Linked DNA regions of Homo sapiens: region 1 is linked to region 2. Evidence: fine-mapped expression QTL. A gene starts in region 2. The other region holds a variant in brackets. All regions are shown on one strand. Distances are between the middles of the regions.

Region 1 (5,372 bases), 34 kb before region 2:
AAACAAACAACTTGGTTTTTCTCATTCGGGCAACACTAATAAAACTATTTCCTCAATAAAGTTGTGCACGTCACGCTGAAGAGCCATGTGGGGTGTGTGGAAGATTGCAAGGGTGGAAAGAATGCTCCTGGTGATGGGCTGGGAACAACGGGCAACAGCCCAGGGGACCCCCAGAGGGTTAACGGGTCCAGGTGCTGACAGCTGTCACCATCAAGTGCCACGGGGATTGGGAAAATACTTCTTTTCTAGGTGCCTCAGTAAGAATTTGACTCTGTCAAAACCTAAATTTGTAGTGCCTTACACTAGAAATCACATTAAATCCGCATAACTCTTTTAATAAATAAAGCATATTCATGGCTTAGATTTTAAATCACATTTACAGATGAGGGAAAACTTCTAGGCCTAAACAGGTAACAGTAAAGCGACTACTGCTGGAAGGAGTGGTGTGCCACATGCGCCTTAAGCCTCAAGAGTGGGGACTGCAGGGCCAAACACCAAATACATCACCTTTAGGCCAGACGGAGAGTGGAGACCCAGGAAGCCCATGCAACCACCATCTGCCCCCTCCCCTAGTGCTGCAGAACCGGCTGGACACTGTCACACTTTCAGAAGAACTGGAGGTGGGTCCTGATCATATTACATGAAGCTTTCCACCATTGTGAACAATTAGGCAAGGCATGAGTGACAGAGGGGCATCGCTGATAAATACAGAGCAATACTGGGGCAGTGAAGAGGAAGCTACAGAGACATTCGTGTTTCTTCAAATATCAGAAGCTTCCACATCACAGCAGGAGAGCTGACGACGAGCTCCACCTCCTGAAGGCTTAGTCCAAAAACTTCCTGTTGGCATTTGCACCAAACAAGGCTCCCCGGACTTCTGGCATCATCTGTGGAGAGAAAGTGTAATAAATACGCAATGTCAGCTGAAGAAGTTGTAGAGCGCTGCACATCTTTTTTTTTTTTTTTTTTTTGAGACGGAGTCTCGCTCTGTCGCCCAGGCTGGAGTGCAGTGGCGCATCTCCGCTCATTGCAAGCTCACGCCATTCTCCTGCCTCAGCCTCCCAAGTAGATGGGACTACAGGTGCTTGCCACCATGCCTGGCTAATTTTTTTGTATTTTTAGTAGAGACGGGGTTTCACCATGTTAGCCGGGATGGTCTCGATCTCCTGACCTCGTGATCCACCCGCCTCGGCCTCCCACAGTGCTGGGATTACAGGCGTGAGCCACCAAGCCTGGCCAGAGTGCTGCACATCTTAACCACAGGTGGAAAGCCATGAACCTCTATGTGGCTGGGAAGGACTCACAAAGCCACGCACATCAAAGCCACCCTCTCCTTCCCTGAAGCAAGTAACACATTCCTTGGTGAGAAACTTAACTCATCCCAAATCTGGGGTTCAGACTGCTTACAAAAGGGACACATTAAAAAAAAACAAAACAAAAAAAAACCTAAAGTCACTACTATCTCAGACTTAACTCATCATAATCATCTCACCACAATATGCTGGGTCACCTACACTCTTTCTTCAACAAACATTTACTGAGTGCCTACTATGGCCACAGCAGCTGCAAAGAACACTTCCAATGCCAGCTTAGGCTGGAAGCACTTGCTACAGCCACTGATGAATCCTTAGGAGAACTTAACCCTGGACTTCCAAGGCTCGGCTGTCCAACAGGGCAGTCCTAGCTACAGATGGTTATTGTGTGCTGAGAAACTGAATTTTTCGGTTTAATTAAATATCCGTAAGTGAGTAGTGGCTATGATACTGGATGGGACAGTGGCTACTAGGAAACAATGTTCTGAGGTTTAAGTTACCAGAATATGAAAAAATCAAGGTGAAAGTGCTTTAGTTATAAGACAAGTATCTGCATAAACAGTAAACTGCATATCTAGGTCAGGGAATAACTAGGTTGGCAGCCACAGCAATAGACTCCCACTAGAAGTCTAGAAGATGCCCAGCATTTTAGAACAAATGGAATTTTCCTGGCTTGTTTCCTAGAGTTCCTGTGTACAAATCTGGAAACATCTGAAAAGCCAGCAGCTTTATGATAATTCCTTTAAATAAGTATTTGTGTCTGAGCACGGTGGCTCACACCTGTAATCCCAGCACTTTGGGAGGCCAAGGCGGGTGGATCACCTGAGGTCAGGAATTTGATAACAGCCTGGCCAACATGGTGAAACCCCGTCTCTACTAAAAATACAAAATTAGCCGGGTGTGGTGGCAGGTGCCTGTAATCCCAGCTACTCGGGAGGCTGAAGCAGGAGAATCGCTTGAACCTGGGAGGTGGAAGTTGCAGTGAGCCAAGACTGCACTCCAGCCTGCGCAAAAAAGAGTGAAACTCCATCTCAAAAAAGCAAAACAAAACAAAAAAACACAAGTATTTGCTTTAGTTCCCATCACTCCTGTTAGAGAAAGAACTTGTCAGCACCTTACATGTAGTAAAATGTACATATTCGAATCCTAGGTCAACAAAACACTTGTTCTGACCCCAAATTCACCCTCATGTAAATGTTACCACCTCAGCAAATGCTACTACATGCCCAATTCTCATTCTTTTTGAGAAAATGTCCAAAACTGGAAAGACAGCAACAAATCCCAAATACCAGTGAATGGACACGTGTTCTCTGTCCCACTTCAAAGTAACAGCAGACCAACTACCAAGAAGTACCCCCACACTCACCTGCTGGGCTATGAGATCCAGCCGGCTTTCCAGGGTGTTGGAAACCTTTATTTTACGATCTCCATTATAGATCTCAACTCCACCAGCTCTGCAAAAAAAAAAGCACAGGAAATAATCATTTTCAAAGACTTGAGAAAGATACATGGTACCCTTTACTCCCGCAGAGGAATGCCCTTGTCTTGGTGTGTAGACTGCGCAACCTAAGCAACAGGCTTGAAAGGAACTGAAAAAGCTTCTGAAGATGTAACGCACAGTTGGTTTCAGGAAACCCCAGTCCCCGCCTAGATGTCCATTATATGAAACAGCGTAGTATTTGCATACAACCATCACACATCCTCCCCTATA[T/C]TGCAAATCATGTCTACAGCACTTAAAATAGCTAATACGATGTAAATGGTTGTTATACCGTAGTGTTTAGGGAGTGAAAAGAAAAAGTTGGTTGAATTCACAGGTGTGGACCCCAAAGATACAGAGAACTGACTGTATTCATCTCAATAACTGTCATTTACCAAGTGACACTATGTGTCAATTTGTTTTGTTTTTTTTGAGACTCGCTCTGTTGCCCAGGCAGGAGTGCAATGGTGCGATCTTGGCTCACTGCAACCTCTGCCTCCCGAGTTCAAGCAATTCTCCTGCGTCAGCCTCCCCAGTAGCTGGGATTACAGGCACCTGCCATCACGCCTGGCTAATTTTTGTATTGTTGTAGAGACGGGGTTTCACCATGTTGGCCAGGCTGGTCTTGAACTCCTGACCTCAGGTGATCCGCCCACCTCTGCCTCCACAAGTGTTGGGATTACAGGAGTGAGTCACCGCGCCCAGCCTGTGTCAATTTGATTTTATGTTACAAAACCTGTTTTAATTATCACAGCCAGCCCTCCCCAACAAAATGAAAAAGAGAGGATTTCATCTCAGTTTGCAAATCACTCAATCCTCATCTGAATGTTTTCTTAAGCCCAATCCTGCTCATTACTGATGAGGCCCTATCACGACTGCATGTGTGTCTGATAAAAGATGCCACTGCTGGCCGGGCGTGGTAGCTCACCCCTGTAATCCCAGCACTTTGGGAGGCCGAGGTGCTCCCAAACTCAAGTTTGAGGCCAGCCTGGCCAACATGGCGAAAGCCTGTCTCCACTAAAAATACAAAAATTAGCTGGGCATGGTGGGGCGTGCCTGTAGTCCCAGCTACTTGAGAGACTGAGGCAGGAGAATTGCTTGAACCCAGGAGGCAGAGGTTGCAGCAAGCCGAGATCACACCACTGCACTCCAGCTTGGGTGACAGAAAGAGACCCTTACTCAAAATACAACAACAACAACAAAAAAAGAGGCTGGGTGCGGTGGCTCACGCCTGTAATCCCAGCTCTTTGAGAGGCCGAGGTGGGCAGATCACGACATCAGGAGATTGAGACAATCCTGGCTAACAAGGTGAAACCCCGTCTCTACTAAAAATACAAAAAAAATTAGCGAGGCATGGTGGCGGGTGCCTGTAGTCCCAGCTAATCGGGAGGCTAAGGCAGGAGAATGGTGTGAACCTGGGAGGTGGAGCTTGCAGTGAGCCGAGGTCGTGCCACTGCACTCCAGCCTGGGTGAGAGTGAGACTCTGTCTCAAAAAATAAATAAATAAATAAATAAGATAAAAAATGCTATGAGGTTAGTGCTAATACGTCAATTTACAGATAAGGGAATCAGGGCTCACTACTATGGTTTGAGTCTGTTCCCTCAGAAACTAATGGTGAAATTTGATTCTCAATGTGGCAGTGTTGGGAGGTGGAGCATAGTAGGAGGTGTTCAGGGCTCAAGGGCAGATCCCGAGGCAATGAACTGTGGCGAGGGCCTGGATTCTAGCTCCGGCAGGACTCGACTGTGAGCAGAGGGTGGGCTGGTATGATAGGGAGTCTGGTTCCCTAGGCTCTCTGGCCTCCTCTCTCGCCATGTGGTCTCTATGCACACACCCACTCCCCTTCCACCTTCTGCCATGAGTGGAAGCAGCCTGAGGCCCTCACCAGATGCAGCTGTCCAATCTTGAACTTTCCAGCCATGAGAATCATGAACCAAATAAACCTCTTTTCTCCATGAATTACCCAGCCTCGGGTATTCTGTTATAGCAACACTAAATGGACGACACCACTCAATGAAACTGAATAAACGAGTCCAAGATTACCCAGGTAGTAAGTGGCAGAATCAGGAATCTAACCCAACTCTGACAGCATATCTTATGAGTTTATATACTTTTTCCATTTACAGAGCATTTTCACATGTACTATCTCATCTTTTTTTCTTCACTGCATGAAACAAAAAAGCAAAAAGCAATGATCCTATTTTACATATGATGAATTCAGTCTCCAGGTCCCATAGTAGCAAAAGGCCAAGATAGGACTCAAATCTAGGTCTTACATTCCTAAGTGTGATAATCAGCTAACTTCAAAATGTGTCCAAGGCACCAGGCATGGTGGCTCACGCCTGTAATCCCAGCACTTTGGGAGGCCGAGCGGGCAGATCACGAGGTCAGGAGATCGAGACCATCCTGGCTAACACAGTGAAACCCCATCTCTACTAAAAATACAAAAAAATTAGCTGGGCGTGGTGGCAGGCGCCTGTAGTCCCAGCTACTCAGGAGGCTAAGGCAGGAAAATCGCTTGAACCTGGGAGGCAGAGGTTGCAGTGAGCCAAGATCATGCCACTGTACTCCAGCCTGGGTG
Region 2 (5,343 bases):
AGCACAGTACTTCAGAAAAAAAAGGACTTAGTTCTCTAAACTATGTGCAAATTAAAACTGCAGCCTTAAACTTCCTTCTCTGAAAAATCTATCGGCAATATGATTACTAAATGCAAGGATTCTGATTTGTTAGTTATAGGCTTATAAACTGCTACTATATTCCCCTGAGAGTCTTTTGCATGACAAAATTCTTAATACCTACAGACTTGAAGGTATGGCACTTAAAAAAAAAAAAAAAGTTTCCCAGGACTGATTACACTTTGAAAACTGATGTGGGTTCACGACTTCCACAACAATTTTTTCCCATAAACTCTGATACATCTACTTGGTGCCAAACACCGTTAGGCATTGAGGCTCCTAAATGTAAGCAAAAGGGGTCCTGGCCAGGCGCGGTAGCTCATGCCTGTAATCCCAGCACTTTGGGAGGCCGAGGTGGGCAGATTACGAGGTCAGGAGATCAAGACCATCCTGGCTAATACAGTGAAACCCCATCTCTAATAAAAAATAGAAAAAATTAGCCAGGCGTGGTGGCGGGCGCCTGTAAGTCCCAGCTTCTCGGGAGGCTGGGGCAGGAGAATGGCATGAACCCAGGAGGTGGAGCTTGCAGTGAGCGGAGACCATGCCACTGCACTCCAGCCTGGGCAACAGAGCGAGACTTCGTCTCAAAAAAAAAAAAAAAAAAAAAGAAAGAAAAGAAAAAGCGGTCTTCCATTTGACACAATTTTGTTTATTTATTTAATATTTTTAGAGACAGGGTCTTTTGCTCTCTCACCCAGGATGGAGCACAGTGGCATGATCATAGCTCACTGCAGCCTCGACCCCTTGGGCTCAAATGATTCTCCCACATCAGCCTCCCTAAGTAGCTAGGAGCACATGTGTGCCCCACCACACCTGGCAATTTTTTTTTTTTTTTGAGACAGTCTCGCTCTGTTGCCCAGGCAGCAATGGTGTGATCTCGCCTCACCATAACCTCCACCTCCCGGGTTCAAGAAATTCTCCTGCCTCAGCCTCCTAGTAGTTGGGATTACAGGCATATGCCAGCACGCCCCACTAATTTTGTATTTTTAGTAGAGACAGGGTTTTGCCACGTTGGCCAGGCTGGTCTGGAACTCCTGACCGCAGGTGATATGCCCACCTCGGCCTTCCAAAGTGCTGGGATTACAGGCATGAGCAACCATGCCCAGACAGCCTGGCTTATTTTTTAAGAAAAAATTTTTTAGAGATAAGGTCTATGTTGCCCAGGCTGGTCTTGAACTCCTGGGATCAAGCGATCCTCCCACCTCAGCCTCCCAAAGTGCTGGGGGCTACAGGTGTGAGCCACCACACCTGGCGTGTATTTGTGTTTATTAATATTAAAATTTTTTGAGATGGAGTCTCACTCTGTCACCCAGGCTGGAGTGCAGTGGCACAATCTTGGCTCACTGCAACCTCCGCCTGCCGGGTTCAAGCGATTCTCCTGCCTCTGCCTCCTGAGTAGCTGGGACTACAGGCGCACCCCACTAGGCCCAGACAATCTTTTTTTTTTTATTTTTTTGAGAGGGAGTCTCGCTCTGCCGCCCAGGGTCGCTCGGCCTCCCGGGTTCACGCCATTCTCCTGCCTCAGCCTCCCGAGTAGCTGGGACTACAGGCGCCCGCCACCATGCCCGGCTAATTTTTTGTATTTTTAATAGAGATGGGGTTTCACCATGCTGGCCAGGCTCGTCTCGAACTCCTGACCTCAGGTGATCCGCCCTCCTCAGCCTCCCAAAGTGCTGGTATTACAGACGTGAGCCACCATGCCCGGCCCCAGCCTGTATCTCACAAATGTTAACACACACATTAGTGGGAGACCAATCATTACAATCCATTATGATAGAGGGGACTTCCCCAAAATGAAGATTAACAGTACATACAGGCCTGGCGCGTTGGCTCATGCCTGTAATCCCAGCACTTTGGGAGGCCCAGGTGGGAAGATCACCTGAGGTCAGGAGTTCAAGACCAGCCAGGCCAATATGGTGAGACCCTGCCTCTACTAAAAAAAATACAAAAATTAGCCGGGCTTGGGGCGCGAGTCTGTAATCCCAGCTTCTAGGGAGGCTGAGGCAGGAGAATCACTTGAACCCGGGGCGGAGGTTGCAGTGAGCCGAGATCGCGCCCTTGCACTCCAGCCTGGGCGACAGAGTGAGACTCCGTCTCAAAAAAAAAAAAAAGAAAAAAAGAAAAAAACACAGTTCATAAAGTGAACGACCTTGTCAAAACACTGGTTGGAAGCAGGTCTCTTCCCTCCGCACTGTTTCCTATCATATAGCCTTAAGCATTTCCCTCAGGGTTAAAAAAAAAAAAAGTGACAAGGCTGGTTTGTTTTTTTTTTTTCTTTTTCCAGAGGGAGTCTCGCCCTGTCGCCCATGCTGGAGTGCAAAGGCGCGATCTCGGCTAACTGCAACCTCCGCCTCCGGGTTCAGCTTCCCGAGTAGCTGGGATTACAGGCGCGCGCCACCACGTCCGGCTAATTTTCTATTTTTAGTAGAGACCGGGGTTTCACCATTTTGGCCAGGCTAGTCTCGGACTCCTGACCTCAGGTGATCCGGCCGCCTCGGCCTCCCAAAATACTGGGATTACAGGCGTGAGCCACTGCCCCTGGCCACAAGGCTGTTTTCAATCCTTGCACAGATCTCTGTCCGACTAGGCACAGTGAATACCCTTGGAAAACAGGGAATGCTGAGGTGGGAGGCAAAGAGCCAGGGCGTTCAAGAAGGCAGCGCGCAGGCAAGCGGGCAGTGCCCAAGACCCGAGCAAAAGTCACATGAGCTGCGGGGCAAATCTCCGTCCTCAGGCCGACCTCTTGGATCTGGTGACTTGGAGCAAGGGACCTTCCTGCGGCATCTGGGCGGCTCAAGGCCCGCGGCCTTCCCTAGGCGGGCTCCAGCCCACTCCCCGGGACTGCCGCCGCGGCTTCGTAAGACCCAACCAAGCCCCTCACCTGCTTTTGCACGTCAGCATCGCTGAGAGCCATGGCGAGAGCAATGCTAGGCCGGTGAACAGTAGGCTCGAGTTTAGGTTTGAAAGGTGAGGTGAGAGAAATCGGCAAAGGGAACCCCTGCGCAGATCTCGGGTTCCTTTACTTTATAACCGCGGGTTCCGGTTCCTGCCAGGTGACTGCACAGTTCATCCTCATGACCCTTCTCAGCCAATGGGAAGAGAGCGACGCCCAGGAAGTCCCGCCCTGTCCCGGCCTGTGGGCGCGTCCTCGGGTCCTTCTACGTCGCTGACTCGTGACCTGACCGGTATTTTTTTCCTAAACTGGGATCTTGGGTAGGAGGAAGAAAAGATAAGGAGTTCCTCTATCTGAAATTAGTCGGGCTGTTTTGAGGAGTACTGGTTAGGTATATTGGAGAATGTGCCTTTATTGGAATTTTTCGCATAATTACACAGGGTTATGGGCTTAGGGGTACATGATTGTTGGCCGGGCGTGGTGGCTCACGCCTGCAATCCGGAGACTTTGGGAGACCAAGGCGGGTGTATCGCTTGACCTCAAGTTCGAGACCAGGCTGGACAACATAGAGGAACCCCGTCTCTACCAAAAGAAAAAAAAAAGGGGGATACATGATTTCTGACTATTCATGTCAACCTTGATTACCTGAATAAAGTGTAGGGTTTGTAGGTTTCTCCACTCTGAAGTTACCTTTTTTAACCCCCTTTCCATACTGTAGTCTTAGGAAGGAAGCCACTATACAAAGCCCACACCTAGGGAGTGGGAAGCTATGCTCAACTTCCTTATTAGGGTGGAGCAGCTACATAATTTATTTGGAACTTTTCTGAGATAGCCTATATATTTTTCAAAAGCCTTCCCAGGTCCCATTTAGAGGAATATTAGGACAGAAATCCCCCCAGGCTCATTTGTTTTTATTTGGATTTACCTCAAGCCCGTTTTTTTCCCCAAAATCCCAAAGGCAAAAACTTTTGAAAATTCCTTTATCTTTAGGATAGACTGACTCCTAATAGTAGAATAAGAGGTCAAATGGTACACCCACTTTTTTCTTTTTACTGTGCTATGGTTACCCACCATTTTTATTAGCTTTTTATCTTGAAGAAATTTGAGATATAGTAACTTGTAAGAATACTGCATTGACCTCCCTTCACCTAGATTCAACAATTGTTAACATTTTGCTACATGTACATTAACACTTTATTTTCATACACACACACACACACACACACACACACACTTCCTATTTTAGTGTGTCATAAGAACGAGGATGTAGCAAATTCAGGAAATTTAGTTTACTAGGCTGAACATTAATTTCCTTTGTCCCGGGCCAGGCGCGGTGTCTCACGCCTGTAATCCCACCACTTTGGGAGGCTGAGGTGGGCAGATCACCTGAGGTCGGGATTTCGAGACCAGCCTGACCAACATGGAGAAACCCCAGTCTCTACTAAAAATACAAAATTAACAGGCGTGGTGGTGTGTGCCTGTAATCCCAGCCACTGGAGAGGCTGAGGCAGGAGAATTGCTTCAACCCAGGAGCAGAGGTTGCGGTGAGCCAAGATCGTGCCACTGCACTCCAGCCTGGGCAATAAGAGTGAGACTCCGTCTCAAAAAAACAAAAAAAAAAAAAACAAATTCCTTTGTCCCATCAATCCATCAATGTACTTTATAACCCTTTCTTTTTTTTTTGAGACAGAGTCTCACTCTGTCGCCCAGGCTGCAGTGCAACGGCATGGTGTCAGCTCACTACAACCTCTGCCTCCCGGGATCAAGTGATTCTCCTCCCTCAGCCTCCCAAGCAGCTGGGATTACAGGTGCCTGCCACCATGCATGGCTAATTTTTGTATTTTTAGTAGAGATGAGGTTTCACTGTGTTGGCCAGGCTGGTCTTGAACTGCTGACCTCGTGATCCACCTGCCTCGGCCTCCGAGAGTGCTGGGATTACAGGTGTGAGCCACTGCACCCGGCCTTCTTTTTCTTTTCTTTTTTTTTTTTTTTTTGAGATGGAGTCTCGCTCTGTTGCCCAGGCTAGAGTGCAGTGGCAGAATCTCGGCTCACCACAACCTCCGCCTCCCGGGTTCAATTGATTCTCCTGCCTCAGCCTCCCCAGTAGCTGAGATTACAGGCATCTGCCACCACGCCCAGCTAATTTTTGCATTTTTAGTAGAGATGGGGTTTCAACACATTGGCCAGGGTGGTCTTGAACTCCCGACCTCAGGTGATCTGCCTGCCTCCACCTCCCAAAGTGCTGGGATTACAGACGTGAGCCACCGCGCCCAGCCATAACCTTTTTTTAATAACCTTACTTTTTAACCTTTTATAACCTTCTTATAACCTTACTTTATAACCTTTATAACCTGGATTGGATCCAGGGTCAC

Evidence for each region.
Region 1: its variant is fine-mapped to the expression of ATP6V1E1 in whole blood (INTERVAL, PIP above 0.99).

Annotation. Positions count from the first base shown.
Region 1 is chr22:17,591,850-17,597,221 of GRCh38, forward strand. It overlaps ATP6V1E1 (ATPase H+ transporting V1 subunit E1), which reads right to left. Exons shown (of 9, transcript NM_001696.4): 8 at 2,680-2,767; 9 at 287-887. The coding sequence ends at 825. Among named protein-coding and RNA genes, the nearest start is that of SLC25A18, 31 kb to the left of the region's middle. The variant T/C (reference allele first, on the strand shown) is at 3,025.
Region 2 is chr22:17,625,644-17,630,986 of GRCh38, forward strand. ATP6V1E1 (ATPase H+ transporting V1 subunit E1) reads right to left here and starts at 3,106. Exons shown (of 9, transcript NM_001696.4): 1 at 2,960-3,106. The coding sequence starts at 2,992. It also overlaps a transcript of BCL2L13 not described here. RefSeq lists enhancers at 2,801-2,950, 3,031-3,120, 3,062-3,231.